Homo sapiens: one gene and its partners. The protein of the gene in region 3 purifies or fractionates together with the protein of the main gene of each other region. This does not show direct contact. Each region holds a gene or a part of one and is shown on either strand. Other genes may lie near its edges.

Evidence for each region. The genes of interacting proteins can lie anywhere in the genome.
Region 1: the proteins of CDC37L1 (region 3) and CHORDC1 purify together in Homo sapiens (affinity purification with mass spectrometry; one study listed by BioGRID and IntAct). This does not show direct contact.
Region 2: the proteins of CDC37L1 (region 3) and RELCH fractionate together in Homo sapiens (co-fractionation; one large-scale study listed by BioGRID). This does not show direct contact.
Region 4: the proteins of CDC37L1 (region 3) and NIBAN1 fractionate together in Homo sapiens (co-fractionation; one large-scale study listed by BioGRID). This does not show direct contact.

Annotation. Positions count from the first base shown.
Region 1 is NC_000011.10:90,206,050-90,209,549, forward strand, and holds part of CHORDC1 (cysteine and histidine-rich domain-containing protein 1), read right to left. Parts: intron 762-3,500; coding exon of another isoform or gene 699-761; intron 224-698; coding exon 153-223; exon of another isoform or gene 152-152; intron 1-151. UniProt on the Homo sapiens protein: Regulates centrosome duplication, probably by inhibiting the kinase activity of ROCK2. Proposed to act as co-chaperone for HSP90. May play a role in the regulation of NOD1 via a HSP90 chaperone complex. In vitro, has intrinsic chaperone activity.
Region 2 is NC_000018.10:62,193,755-62,197,254, reverse strand, and holds part of RELCH (RAB11-binding protein RELCH), read right to left. Parts: intron 1-3,500. UniProt on the Homo sapiens protein: Regulates intracellular cholesterol distribution from recycling endosomes to the trans-Golgi network through interactions with RAB11 and OSBP.
Region 3 is NC_000009.12:4,678,215-4,682,368, reverse strand, and holds the start of CDC37L1 (hsp90 co-chaperone Cdc37-like 1), read right to left. Parts: upstream 2,801-4,154; 5' UTR 2,602-2,800; coding exon 2,470-2,601; intron 1-2,469. UniProt on the Homo sapiens protein: Co-chaperone that binds to numerous proteins and promotes their interaction with Hsp70 and Hsp90.
Region 4 is NC_000001.11:184,807,009-184,810,508, forward strand, and holds part of NIBAN1 (protein Niban 1), read right to left. Parts: intron 1,228-3,500; coding exon 1,066-1,227; intron 1-1,065. UniProt on the Homo sapiens protein: Regulates phosphorylation of a number of proteins involved in translation regulation including EIF2A, EIF4EBP1 and RPS6KB1. May be involved in the endoplasmic reticulum stress response.

The DNA.
Region 1 (3,500 bases), on a different chromosome or scaffold from region 3:
CCCCTGTGTTTGTGTAGGCTATTGTGAAGATGTTAATGGCAATGTAAGTAAAATGCCTAATAACACTGCATGGCAAACAATGTTTAAAGACAGAAAGGTTTAACTTTCTAAATTCTACCATAAACTATTTTAATAAGTCATGCATAAGTTACCCCTCATGGAAAATAGGTACTCCAGAATGATATACACAGACTTCTTCTAGACTCTCTAGACCCTGGTATGTCTAAAAAGGAAACAAAGAGAAAAAAAATTAGCTGCGTATCTTACAGTTACATCTCATACATATTTGCAGTATTGGTGACCTCTACGAACTTTGCAAAATACTTAAATGACAATTACCTAGAAAATTCATAAATCCATCCCACGCCATTCTGTTAAAAAATGAAAAATGATTCCCTTTTGGACTTGGTTAAGTTTTAGGTTCCTTTGAGAAAGTCATATTAAGATGCTTTCAGCCTTTTGAGTATGAGATCCCATCCAATCATATTCAAGTACTTACTTAGTTACTAATTTCAAAAACAATGTTGAAACCAAGGGATTAATACTCTCAATAAAAATACAGTTACTGCATGACTTATGTGTACAGTAAACTCCATGTAAGTATTGTCAAATAATATGAGAAATCTAATAAGCAATTCTGGAAGTTCTAGAGTGATGGTGATTTCTTATCCCTATAAAGGGTAAAATGAGCTGCAGACCTATATATATATCCAGGGTTTGTCTGGAAGATCCGGGCCCCATTGCTGCTGTAGATGGAGGCTCTACAGATGAATTCACAAAAAATTATGTTAATAAAACATGGATGTAGCCAGTAGTATATTTTCTATTTTTGTATTTATAGCACTACCTACAAACAGAAAATAAAATTCTGTGTTTATCTTTTATAAATCCAAAGTACAGTATTAGATGTGTATTTCTCCTTAAGATATTTCACAAGAACATAAAACTCAGTATGTTAGCATCTACTAAACTTAATGCTATTGCCCCCACAGTCCATTCTTTTCCCCATATTATTTGATGGCACCGTACAGACTCAGTTTCTCAAAGCAAAATCCATTCGTTCCTCTTCAGCATCTCCTCTCCCTCCACCCATAGGCAGTCTATAATGAAATCTCATCAATTTGACTTGAATATATTAATTTGTTAATCTTCCTCATAAGCTAGCAGATTTTAAGCAATCAGACTATACTAACAGGTTTCTACTATTTCTCAGCCTTCGACTTCTATTTTCTACTAATTATCAAATTACTATCACCCTTTTGTTTAAAGTTCTTTAATTACATCCATGTCACACCTTATACAATAATCAGTTCCAGGTCATTTACATATTTAAATGTGCCTCCATATGAGAAAACACTCACAGCCCTGAAGTAAGCAACGATTTCTTAAATAGAACATGGAAAGCACTAGTCATAAACAAAATGATGGACAAATTGGATTTTGTTAAAAAGCAATTTGATAAAAAGTTTATCAAAGTCGTCATTAAGACAGTGAAAAAGCATAGAATTTCTGATAAGAGTCACAGCTAAAATATATAAAGAATTCTTACAAACTGGTAAGCAAGAGACATTAGAGATAGGTAAAAGATTCTGCACACTTCACAAGAGGATATACAAATGGCTAATAAACATACAAAAAAGCAGTCATCATTAGGGAAGTACAAATCAAAACCATGACAAAACACTATACACACACTAGAATGGTTAAAATACAAAAAAAAAAAAAAAAACAAAAAAAACTCGTATAACAAAATGTTAAGAAACCATAGGACAAGTTGAACTAGCCTCACATACTGCTGGTAGAAACGTAAACAAATACAACCACCTTGGAAAACTATGTGGAAGTATCTGTTAATGCTAAAGATATACAGGTGGGCATACCTAATCCAAAATCTCAAATGCTCCAAAAATCTGTTAACTTTTTGAGAGCCAACATGACAGTTAAAGAAAATGCTCATTGGAGCATTTCAGATTAGGGATGCTGAACTAACTGATAAGTATAATGCACATATGCCAAAATTTAAAAAAAAAAATCCAAAATACTAGAAATGGAAATGTGTATATGTGTCACAAAAGTCATGCACAAGAATGTTCATAATAGGCCGGCTGCGGTGGCTTCACGCCTGTAATTCCAGCACTTTGGGAGGCCGAGGCGGGTGGATCACCTGAGGTTCAGGAGTTTGAGACCAGCCTGGCCAACATGGTGAAACCTTGTCTCTAGTAAAAATACAAAAATTAGTCAGGCGTGGTGGGCACCTGTAAACCCAGCTACTCAGGAGGCTGAAACAGAAGAATCGCTTGAACCCGGGAGGCGGAGGTTGTAGTGAGCCGAGAGCCTACCATTGTACTCCAGGGTGGGTTACAAGAGTGAAACTCCATCTCAAAAAGAATGTTCATAATAGCATTATTAAAAACAATTTTTTAAAATTAAAGGACAATATAAAGTAGAAATTAGTTGTGGCACATTCAAATAATGACATACCTTAAAGAAATAAAAAAACAAAACTAAAGCTACATGCAACAAAGATAAATAAAACAAGCATTATTATGCAGAAGACGACAAAAACAAGTACATATTCTATGGTTATTTTTACATTAAACTCAGAAACAGAAAAAACATATGTTGACTGACAGAAAAACATTTGAGGAAGATAATGAATGAGAAAACACATAAGGAGTGCTCTGCATTGCTGGTGTGTTTAATTTTGTGAAAATCCCTTGAGCTACAAATTTATATTTGTATATCCTTTAACAAACTTCAATGTTATATTTCAATGAAAAAGACTAAAAAATTCTTCAATTTCAATGGCCTCCACACTCTAACGTACAATCTAACTTCCCTGCATCACTAAACCCTTTTAGGATCTGGCCAGGTCTACTTATCTCTATTAATCTCAATTCCACAGCAGCAAATTTGTACCATTACATAATTTTCTCTATACTTGTGCTATTACTTACGCTTGAAATACCCTTTCTCTGTTTTCCCTGTCATTCACTTTTCAAAACACATCTGATACCTTCTCCTTGATCTTCCTCTATTACCCTACCATTTGCACTGCCTTCCCCAATCCAGTAATTACTAATTCCCTTTTATCTACTACTTCTACCTCATATACATGTAAATACAATTGTATCTCCATTCCTTAAGTGATCTAAAATTTAACATGAGGAAAAAGTATAAACCTGCCCCCACCCCATTTTCACCTTGTTGGTTAATGGTGTCACCAATCACCCAGATGCTTGAATTCCCTTCACATCGAATCCATTAGCAAATCCTGCTAATACAGGCAGATGCTCCTTTGCTTACAATGTGGTTATAGCCTGATAATACCATTGTTAAGTCAAAAAAATCTTAAGTTACACCATGGTAAGTTCGGAACCATCTGTACTTTCTGTACTTTCAAATTCTATCATTCATTCTACACGCACTGTTCTAAGGATTCAAGATACAACAAAGAAAAAAAATCCCTATCCTCACAACTTTTACTCAGCATGGGGGTT
Region 2 (3,500 bases), on a different chromosome or scaffold from region 3:
TGCTTCCTTGTAGAGTACCACAAGAGGCTGAAATGTCATATTGTATTTTTGCAACTACCCCAGTGGAAACACCCTATTATATGGTAAGCAGATGATGGTAAGCAGGGAGTGTCATGTTCCCAGATGATGTTTTAAACATGAAAAAATACAAGAGCTATTATCTTTCCTTCACCTGTACTTCCTTTTCCTTTCCTTACTCAGGATAAAGAGTCTAAATATAGCCAAATAATAAAGTTACTATTTATTCAAAATTTTACCCACTCTGGAGGGTCAAACTTAACTTTTACTTTCCCCACAGGCCCATTTCATTTTCACAATCAACAAAGATTTTTCTATAACAGAATGTTTATATTCTGTAAACATTATCTTTGCCACAGGAGACTATTCTCAAATTCTTTCATGTGTTAGTCTTACCTCTCCATCAAGAACATAAGCTCAAGGATATGCATTAAACTTTTAGATCGCTGTAATCCTTAACTGACCACAATGTTTAATAAATATATCGATGTAAAAATACTGAATACCAACTATATTCAGGCCACCATGCTAAGCAGGGATTATATCTAACTACAGGAATAAATTTGAAACAATTGGAAAGACATAGGAAAGAAAAATGACAGTTACACAGTAGATATATTTAGGAACGTCTATGGCCCAGAGAATAGTGGAAAGTCTAATTCAGGTAAAAGCAGTGAACTTAATAAATTTTAGAAATGTTGTGATGGGGCCGGGCGCAGTGGCTCACGCCTGTAATCCCAGCACGTTGGGAGGCCGAGGCAGGTGGATCACTTGAGGCCAGGAATTCAAGACATGCCTGGCCAACATGGCAAAACCTAATCTCTACCAAAAATACAAAAATTAGCCAGGTGTGGTGGTGCGGGCTTGTAATCCCAGCTACTGAGGAGGCTGAGGCACCAGAGTCACTTGAACCCAGGAGGCAGAGGTTGCAGCGAGCCAAGATTGTGCCACTGCACTCCAGTTTGGCCGACAGAGGGCGACTATGTCTCAAAAAAAGAAAAGAAAAGAAAAGAAAAATTGCGCTGGTATTTTCTCTCTCAGAAAGCAGAGGAAACACTAAATCCAATCCCAACTTAACAGAGGGGAACTACTTTATAAAGTAGAAGGGATGAAAAGTTTGTAAGAAAGCAATCGTGACATCTTAGTGTTGGCGATGCTAAGAAAGGAACACCGAGCATAGTTAGATATATGCTTTCAGAGTTCTGAGAAACGATACGTTGGATCATGAAAGAAAGATTTTAGGCCAGGCTTGGTGGCTCACGCCTGTAATCCCAGCACTTTGGGAGGCCGAGGCGGGCGGATCACATGAGGTCAGAAGTTTGAGACCAGCCTGGCCAACGTGGTAAAACCTGGTCTCTACCAAAAATAAAAAAATTGGCTGGGTGTGGTGGCATGCGCCTGTAGTCCTAGCTACTCGGGAGGCTGAGGCAGGAGAACTGCTTGAACCCGGGAGGTGGAGATGGCAGTGAGCCAAGACTGCACCACTGCACTCCAGCCTGGCAGAGGGAGACTCCGTCTCGAAAAAAAAAGAAAAAAAAAAGGAAGATGATTTTGGAAGGCTGCAAGCTCATAGGTGAAATGATTACATTCAAACATAAATGACTACCTCCTGTTAGCTGCCTTATAAAAATCTGAAGGCATGGTAAAAGAAATCTATCACCAAAAGGCATGTTAGTTGCCCTCTCCACTTGATCACATTACATCTCTACTGTGCAAAGAACTGGGCTAATCATAAGAAATTACAGTCTAATTTTGATTAGAGCCCTAATGCTTCAAGCAGAAAAAGCATTACTCTTGCTAAGTTACTATAACCTGCTCAGTGTTCATCAATGTCATTACCACAATTTTTATCTTGCAATGTAACTAGAAAACAAAGTACTGAATGGAAGCTATCCTGGCTCACCTGGCAAAAATACAGTGTATACACACACACACACACACACACACACACACACAGAGTGTGTGTATATTCCAGCAAATAATATTACATATAAAAGATCTAATTGGTTCATCATGTAAATTTAGTAGGAACATTACAACGATGCTACAAGAATTTATCCAAAACTGAGATTTCCTTAGAATATCTGTTAAAAGTAATTTTATTCAGTTAATAGAAATTCTATTGAAAACATCAAACTTATAAAGCTATATATCCTGTTCATATTTGAATGTTTTGTAAATATGGATTATTCTTATAATCAAGAAAAAAATTAAACAGTATGAAGACTTCTTAAAGTATGTTTAAAAGTACAACTATATTACAGTATTAAGTCAACAGTTTTAGGGAGATAATTCACTAAATCTAAAATTATAAAGGTTAATAGGATTGCATTGTTCTTAAACATCATTAAATAAAGAAAACCACTTTTTATTATACATTTATTGTTCTGAAGTATTCTGAATTTTCAGATCAGACACATATCAATCAAAATATATACAAAAACAAATCAAAATAATGTTTTAGATAATCCATACTACCAATCTTTAAACCGTTTATAATCAACCAACAAGTGCTTATTGAGTATTATAAAATCACATCCAAGTAGTATCAATCGACATGCTAAAATTGAATATATAGAGGACCTTTAAAAATAGGCAGTAGCCCTGTCCTAGACAATATAATTTGTGTGATCAGGAGCTTAGTTGAAATCTTCCAAATACAGTACTGAGCACAGTTTTATACAAGTATTTTAAAACTGTACTAAAGTTTGTACTATAAATGTCTACATGTTTATAGGAGGAATATTTAAGAAATATTTCTTTTCTCCTTTATGATACCTTCATTAAAATACGGTTCCTGCCGCCATAGACCTAATTGTAAAAGTCAAAACTATAAAACTTGTAAGAGAAAATCTTTGCAACTCTGGGGTAGGCAAATGTTTCTCAAAAGGACATACAGAACATAAATTATTAAAGAAAAAAACAGTCAACTGGATTTGATGAAATCAAAAGCTTTTGTTCACAAGACACACTGTTTTTTGGGGTTTTTTTTGAGACAGGGTCTCGTTCTTTCTCCCAGGCTGGAGTGCAGTGGTATCATGGCTCACTGCAGCCTTGGCCACCTGGGCTCAAGCGATCCTCCTATCTCAGCCTCTCAAATAGCTGGGACCACAGGCATAGGCCACCATGCACGGATAATTTTTGTATTTTTTTTGTAGTGACGGAGTTTTGTCATGTTGCCCAGGCTGGTCTCAAACTCCTGGGCTCAAGCCATCTGCTCACCTCATCCTCCCAAAGTGCTGGGATTACAGGTGTGAGCCACTACGCCTGGTCTGAGACACATCATTAAGAAAATAAAGGGAAATCAGACTGGAAGAAAATATTTGCAAAATTCACATTTGATAATGCACATATAGAGAACTCTTACAACTCAATAATGAAACAAAACCAACATGTAAAAAACCTTAATTTAAAAAAGGGCAAAATACTATCCCTGATGAACATCAATGCAAAAATCCTCAATAAAATACTGGCAAATCGAA
Region 3 (4,154 bases):
GGTGACACAGCGAGACTCCATCTCAAAAAAAAAAAAAAATTAGCTGGGCACAGTGGTGGGCACCTGTAATCCCAGCTACTCAGGAGGCTGAGGCAGGAGAATCACATGAGCCTGGGAGGCGGAGGCTGTGGTGAGCCAATATCGTGCCATTGCACTCCAGCCTGGGCAACACAGCAAGACACTGCCTCAAAAAAAAAAAAAAAAAAAGAGAAAGGATAATATATCAAGAAAAGTAATATGGTAATATGGATAAATAGAAATTATCTTGCATTTTCAAATTATTTGGGAGCAAATATTCTTTTCTCAAATCGAAAAATTCTAAAAATAATGTATGTCTTATTTCTCCACAAACTACCCAGACAACATTTGGCCATTTGGGCAAACTATCCAACATGTATTCAGATATTAAATAAAATATTAGGTCACATTCTAATCCATGACCATACAGAAGTTTTAGAGGGACATTAAACATGATCTGCCTTTACATTAATTGGATCTAAGAACTACATATCACATACTACATTAAGAAGTCTAGATCCCCCTTATTTGATAAAATTAAGCCAAAGCTTTTTTTAGGATTATAAAATGTTAATCAATTAAACATTTTATTTTTTCCAAATATTCCAATCCAAAAATTTAAGTCTTAAAGCCAGTAAGACCAATAAGTAGGTTTGTAATAAACACATGAACTCAGAATTAATAATCAGTTTGCAAAAAAAATTTTTTTTTTTGAGACAAGAGTTTCGCTCTTGTTGCCCAGGCTGGAATGCAATGGTGTGATCTCGGCTCACTGTAACCTTTGCCTCCAACAATTCTCCTGCCTCAGCCTCCCGAGTAGCTGGGATCACAGGCATGCGCCACCACACCAGGCTGATTTTGTATTTTTGGTAGAGACAGGGTTTCTCCATGTTGGTCAGGCTGGTCTCGAACTCTGGTGGGCAGTGCAGTAGGTGGGAAAATATACTGGACTAGGAGTCATAAGTGGGTTCTAGTTTTAACCTGGCCACTAACTAGTTACATGGCCTCAGGGAAAACACTTTTAATGAGAGAGATAAGCTTACTCACTTCTAAAATCTCTTCCAGCTAAACAAATTTAGAAGTGCACAAGTAAGAAATTAACATACAGATATTTCTCTAGATTACTTCTGTAATTCAACCACAATGCACTGAAATTCTTGACACCCTTTTTTCTCTTCATATGCCTTCAAAATTGACAATGGCATCTGCTGTTCATTCTTCTTTCCTCCCTAGCACATCATGTGCTTATAATACATTTTGTATATAAAGATGACACTAGTGATCCAAAATTAGTGGGTGACTAATGATGGACCCATCAACTCTCATTCTGTCCTCCTAAAAAATGTCTTGTAGTTCCCCAGTGACTTAGCTGGCCAAAGTACAGACAGTGGTTATGAAACAGCATTTTTCTCTGTGTGAAGCCAACTAACCCTGTTAGCTGGACATAAGATTGATAATGTCACGCTTACTGGTAAGCAATTTAACTCATTCTCATTAACATCTAGCAAAATAAGTTGAGAGGAAAACTACTATTAAATCTGTTACACTCTTGGGAACCCCATTTTGCAAGAAGGCGGCAGACACTTATGATCCATTGAATATATTAGTGTTTAGTCTGTGATTCTGAAATATACTTCCAAAACACACACGGATTCGGAGAAAAAAACAGGACAAGGTGATGCGAGTATGTAAGTATCCCCTAAGATAGGTCCCTGAAAAATCCTTAATAGTATATCACATTTGGATACGTTTCAGTCGCAGGAAGGCAGGAATGCTGGATTGAAAACACAATACCAGGAACCTAAGAGAAGTCTGAAGGAAAACACAAGTATATGCGTATATATTTTCACTGGAGAATGACGTGAAGCAAAACTAAAAAACAAAACAGTAAGGCAAAGATGGTCACGCGAATGGGAGAGGTGTACGCCAGCGTCAAAAGCGAGATTTAAAGAATTTACTCAGTTGTCAACATCGGTGAAAATCGCATGTGAAATCTTTGTCAGGACTCAGTGTGATGCTGAACTACAATCATTCACTGTTCCTAGCAACTGTGCACAAGTATGCTAGAGCCTTTAACAGAATAAAGTGCTTGGGGAAAACCTCTCACAAGAGGACAAAGGGTCAATGTTACAGCATGAGCCGCCCCAAATCTGAGTGCTGTCAGGAAGGGGAGATGGAGGAAGGTATTCCAAGAGTGAACAGGAATCAGCCAAGGCGAAAGAAAACATGTGCGTGGAGGTGGAGGTTGGTAATATATGGCCACCCCGTCTGCCCTCCGAAGATGCCATAAAAGGGGTGGGATGGCATCAGGCGTCAGGTCCCAGGTCCCCGGCCCCTGGCAGTGAGGTGGGCGTAGAAAAAGGCGTAGAAGAGGGTCTGGGAGACGCGGCATTCCAGGGGTTTGGCGACAGCACCACTCCATCCCTCCGCAGAACGCAGGCCCCTTCTCACCTGGGCGCCGCCGCCTGGCAGCTGCGGGCAGCGGGGAGAACTGGGGAACACGTCGAAGTCACTCTCTTCCTCAGCCTCACCCTCGGCCCGAGGGAGGCTCCAGGGTCCCGGAGGCGGCCACGGTTGTTCCATGTCCGGCTGCTCCGGGTCCTACAACCGCCCTTGGCCCTACAACTGCCACTGCCAACAGACTTGGCGTGAATGGAACCTGCTGCGCCGAGCCAGAAGCCCAGCCGGGGGTCCGGGCCGTTACCCAGAATCCCTCTACTGGCCGCGACGCCGCTGCACACCCGGCGACAGCCTGGGCCTCGCCACCGGCGGACGGCGGAAGAAATAGTCGGCGCGGTGCGTCACTTCCGGTTGGGGCGGGGCTGTGGAGGCGCGTCCCGGGCCCTTTGCGTGTAGTGGGTGGATCTGCAATTGTATTCCTGTTTCAAGCCCCGTTTTCTTGCAGCTCTTCGGCACTGCAAACCTAACCGCTAATGGCGCTGTGGGTGGAGAAACGTTTGTTAGGTAGCGTTATATATTGTTATCTGGTGTTCCCTATACCGAAAACGGCGGGTCCTGGCCGCCGGGAGGTACTCAGACCAGGTGTGCACTTTACATGTTGCTTAAAAATTGCAACTCATTCCTTTACATTGACATTTAAACCAGTGATTCTAAGGCAGAGTTGGGGCGGAGGGAGGAGAATTTTGAACAAGCGGAGCCAATTTTCGTCTCATTTCTAATTACAGGCAACAACAGAATTCTGCGAAACTTGGTTGGTTGGAGGAGCACACCAAAAATAAAGTACCGGAGCCGGCACGGCTTCAAAAAAATTAGGATCAGTACCGCTAGTAGCGAACGCATAAGAAGGGCTTCCTGTATGCCTGCGTATCTTGTTTAAGCCTAAAGATATGTACTCTCTTTATCCTCTTTTTTTGAGACGAGGAAGTAGACCCAGCATGCCCGAGATCACACATTTTACAAGGAAGAAGTAGGATCCAGACCCAGGGAGTTTAACTTCAAAACTTGAACGTTTAACAATCAGGTCTTGCTGCCCTACTCATAAAGAGACCCAAATAAAAACAACATGACGCCATTTTTTTCCATGTGTTTAGACTGGCAAACTTGTGAAGTCGCTTAATACCAAATGTGTACCAAGATGTAAGGAAATGATGTGAGAATGTCATTAGTATAACCTTTTAGGAGGAGTAATTTGACAATATGAGAGGCTTGAGCGGATTGATTCAGCAATTTCACCACTAAGAAAGTATGCAACAATTATTTTTGCACCAATATCCAAAGATTTACTACAAAGATTTCTGGCAGCAATTTTTGTGTGTGTGTGGCAAGAAAAAAAAAAGCATTCTAATTGTCCATCGATAGAGGAACTTAAAGTATGGAATATTAATACAATGGCATATTACCCTTTTTAAAAAAAGTAAATTGTATCTGAATATGCTGATATATAAATACCTCCAAAAGGTATTGAGTTTTAAACAAAGCAACTTGCAGAATTAAACATATGCGTACGTATACAGAGAGAGAAGAGAGAGGGATGGTATTTGTTTGCGTCCGTGTGTGTGTGTGTGTGTGTGTGTGTGTGTGTGTGTGTTTGCGCAGAACATTCCTGGAGGATATGCAAGAAACTGTTAATGATTACCTCTGGTGGGTGAGCCTAGGAAGGAAAGCTTCTGAGGATC
Region 4 (3,500 bases), on a different chromosome or scaffold from region 3:
ATCCACCCGCCTCGGTCTCCCAAAATGCTGGGATTACAGGCGTGAGCCACTGTGCCTGGCCACAATATATACCTTTATCATACCTTCAACATTGTAGTGAATTTATCTAAGAATTTGTCTCACTCAAGCTCCCTGAAGTGGGATCTGGTACAGTGTCCGGCCCACAGTAATCTCTCCTCAGAATATCTGTGTGAAATGGCATGGTGTCCTTTAGAGCTTTGGTGACCGTACCCCTTATTCATTTAGGAAACACTATAATACGGAAGGAGTTTGTGCTATTCATTCCTGTTACTGGGGAAAAGGTTCCTTATGAAAAAAAAAAAAAAGAAACCTGTCAAGTAGACTCAAGAAATTCAAATATGAAGCTGTGATTGATTGATTGGTTTACTCTTAATTACGTTAGGGAATTAATTTAAGCCAGTGGCTCTCAATCCTGGCTGCATATTAGAAACAGTAGGAATCAGGGTAGGGAAGTTCTATCAAAAAGTAGCCATATAGGCTGGGTGTGGTGGCTTATGCCTGTAATCCCAGCACTTTGGGAGGCCGAGGTGGGCAGTTCACTTGAGGTCAAGAGTTTGAGACCAGCCTGGCCAACACAGTAAAAACCCCATCTCTACTAAAAATACAAAAATTAGCCAGACATGGTGGCACATGCCTGTAGTCCCAGCTACTCAGGAAGTTGAGGCAAGACAATCACTTGAACCCGGGAGGCAAAGGTTGCATGCAGTGAGCCAAGATCATGCCACTGCACGCCAGCCTGGACATCAGTATTTCCCCCAGGTGATTCCAATGTGTAGCCAAGGTTACAGCACTGATTTGACAAATCAAGTAGTTATCAATTAATGCTACTTTATTTTTCTGAGCTATGTCTTGTCTATGATGTTCATCCACATGGATGGAAGATGAAGCCAGTGGAGGGACAGAACGTGTCCTCCCGCAACATGATGGCTAAAGAGACGCGACGTATTTCCCTGAGCTACACTAGCAGCTGGTCTCACTGGCCAGCACCCATTTCTCTGCTCTCTCTTTACCCTCATCCACCACGGATGCCCCTGCCACACCCACCTCCTGCATGTAGTTCTGTGTCCTCTGAACCACCAGATCAATGTGGGGGAATCTGAAGCGGCTCTTGAGATCCTGCAGGCGCTCGTGAAGCAGGTTGACTTTAGTATAACAAGGTTCCATCTTCACGGAATGCAGCGGAAGATTCATAAGCCGGTCTAGATGCTGCATTTTGGTGAAGGGAAACATTAAACACCCTCAGAATGAGGAGCGGTATTGCATATATATTGCATATTACATACATTCTAAGCAATCAAATGCAAGTTGTTAAAGTGAATCACTACTTGGATCCCTACATCTGTGACACCTTCAACTGTCTTATTTTCCTCCTGCAGTGGGTTCCTAGGGTAGCTGTAATGCTAGGACAGAAACCAGCAGAAACACCAACTGGATGAGAGGAAGACCCAGCGGTGCACCCACGGGGACTCCAGTCTTTGTAAGCTGTTGATGGACTCTAATCTCCCACTTCCAGAGCTCAAGAACCAGACAGGTAGGCTCTGATACGTGGTTGCTGCTGGGCCCCCAGGCTTCCAAAATCTTCTTTAGTGAGTGACACTCCTCTCAAAAAACGCCAGGGAGGTCAGGATGCTCCCTGGACTCCTGGACTTTGGAAGGGAAGCCAGAGTTCCTCACAATTCTATGAGGATCTGCCAGGGCCCACAGGGCTTCTCTCTGCTATAGGTTGCTTTAGGTGCTAGTGGATGGGAAGTGGATAGGCAGAGCCCTGTACTGGGAGAGGTATCCAGTTTGAAGAACTGGGGTCCCTCCTACTCTAGTTTGCACTCAGTCAATGAGGCCATTGGGCTTCCAGCATCATACCTCACCTGCTAAAGCCCTAAAGTGTTATCAACAAATGTTGTTGCAACAGAATGCATTCTGTTTTCCAAGCTTAGTTTAAAATCATTTTTTAAAGGAAATACTGGAGGTTTAAAATAAACAGGGGAATGGGTGGAGCAGAAGAAGGCAGAAAGAAAGGTTCTGAAAATGGAGGCTCTAGAGAGAACTGGGGAGTGAGGCAGGTTACATATGAATAATATAAGATGCACTGTCCGACTTTCAGCTCACGCAGAAGAGATAATCTAGATTTCTAGATTTCTCTAAACAGGAATTTTAAGAGGGCCCACTCTCATTATGCTTTAAAGGGAAAATACTGCTCCCTTTATGAAGTGAGTTATGGAGAGGTCCACTGAAGTGAAGTAAGGATCAAAAGCATGCTGTGGAACTTGCAGCTCCTCACCAAATGGAATGTGTCTATTTTTAAAAAATATCAATTAAGCAGACAGAAGAGGAAAAATGGGTTCCCACTTTGCTCCTATCAGATTGGCAAAAGTTTAATCAAATGATAACACCTATAGCTGATAGCAGTATGGGGGAGAAAGCCCTTATCATACACAATTAGTGGAAATGTAAAATTTAAATCCTTTTTTTTGAAATGCAATGGAAACATTTTTTAACATGAGAAATGTACTTTCAACCTGGCTATCTTGTCTTAGGAGAATATACTATAGAAATAAATACATCAGGGTATATGTGTGTGTATATATATATATACACATATATATGTGTGTGTGTATATATATATACACATATATATGTGTGTGTGTATATATATATACATATATATGTGTATACATAAAAATATTAATTTATTATGCTTTATTCATAATGCCAGCAATATTGAGATGAATGAATAAATCATGGTGTATCCATACATGAAACATCATGCAGCCATTACAAAGAAAGATTTAGAGCTAAAACAGTTACCTTGGAAACAGTTTCATGGGGTATTTTTGGAAGAGAAACTGATAAGCAGAGTAATGTATAAAATATAATCCCATTTTTCTTAAAGCAGACAATCTAAAGTCTAGCCTCTAAGGGTGTGTTTTATGTGCTAGATAAGAATGGGGAAAATACAGAATGGCATATGCTAAGTTGTTAACACGAGTTGCTTGAGGGGAGGAGGTGGCATTGGGGAAGGGGAAGAGTGAAGACAAGTAAAACAAAACAGGCTGCAATAAGAAACCCCAAAACATTTCTAAAATGATCCTGTTAATGCACAATTATATATGTGTATATATGCATAAAGAATAAAGGAAAAGAAATAGAGACATCTGGTTTTATCTACTGACTTGTAAGGATGTTCATCATGATATGTCAAGTATAAAACCAAGCTGCCAATTTATATCTTTTTCAGTGATTCTTAAACTGTAGGGTACACCAGAACCTCTGGAGGTCTTGTTAAAACAGACTCCTGGGCACTACCCCTAGATTTTCTGATTTAGTAGATCATTGGTGGGGCCCGAGAATTTGCATTTTTAACAACCAGGTGATGATGACACTGCTGGTCTGGGGACCATACTTTCAGAAATATTGATCTGTTAAAGCAAACTAAATACAGCCTGAGAAGGACTCCATACTTCCATATTTTAGTCCTTGTG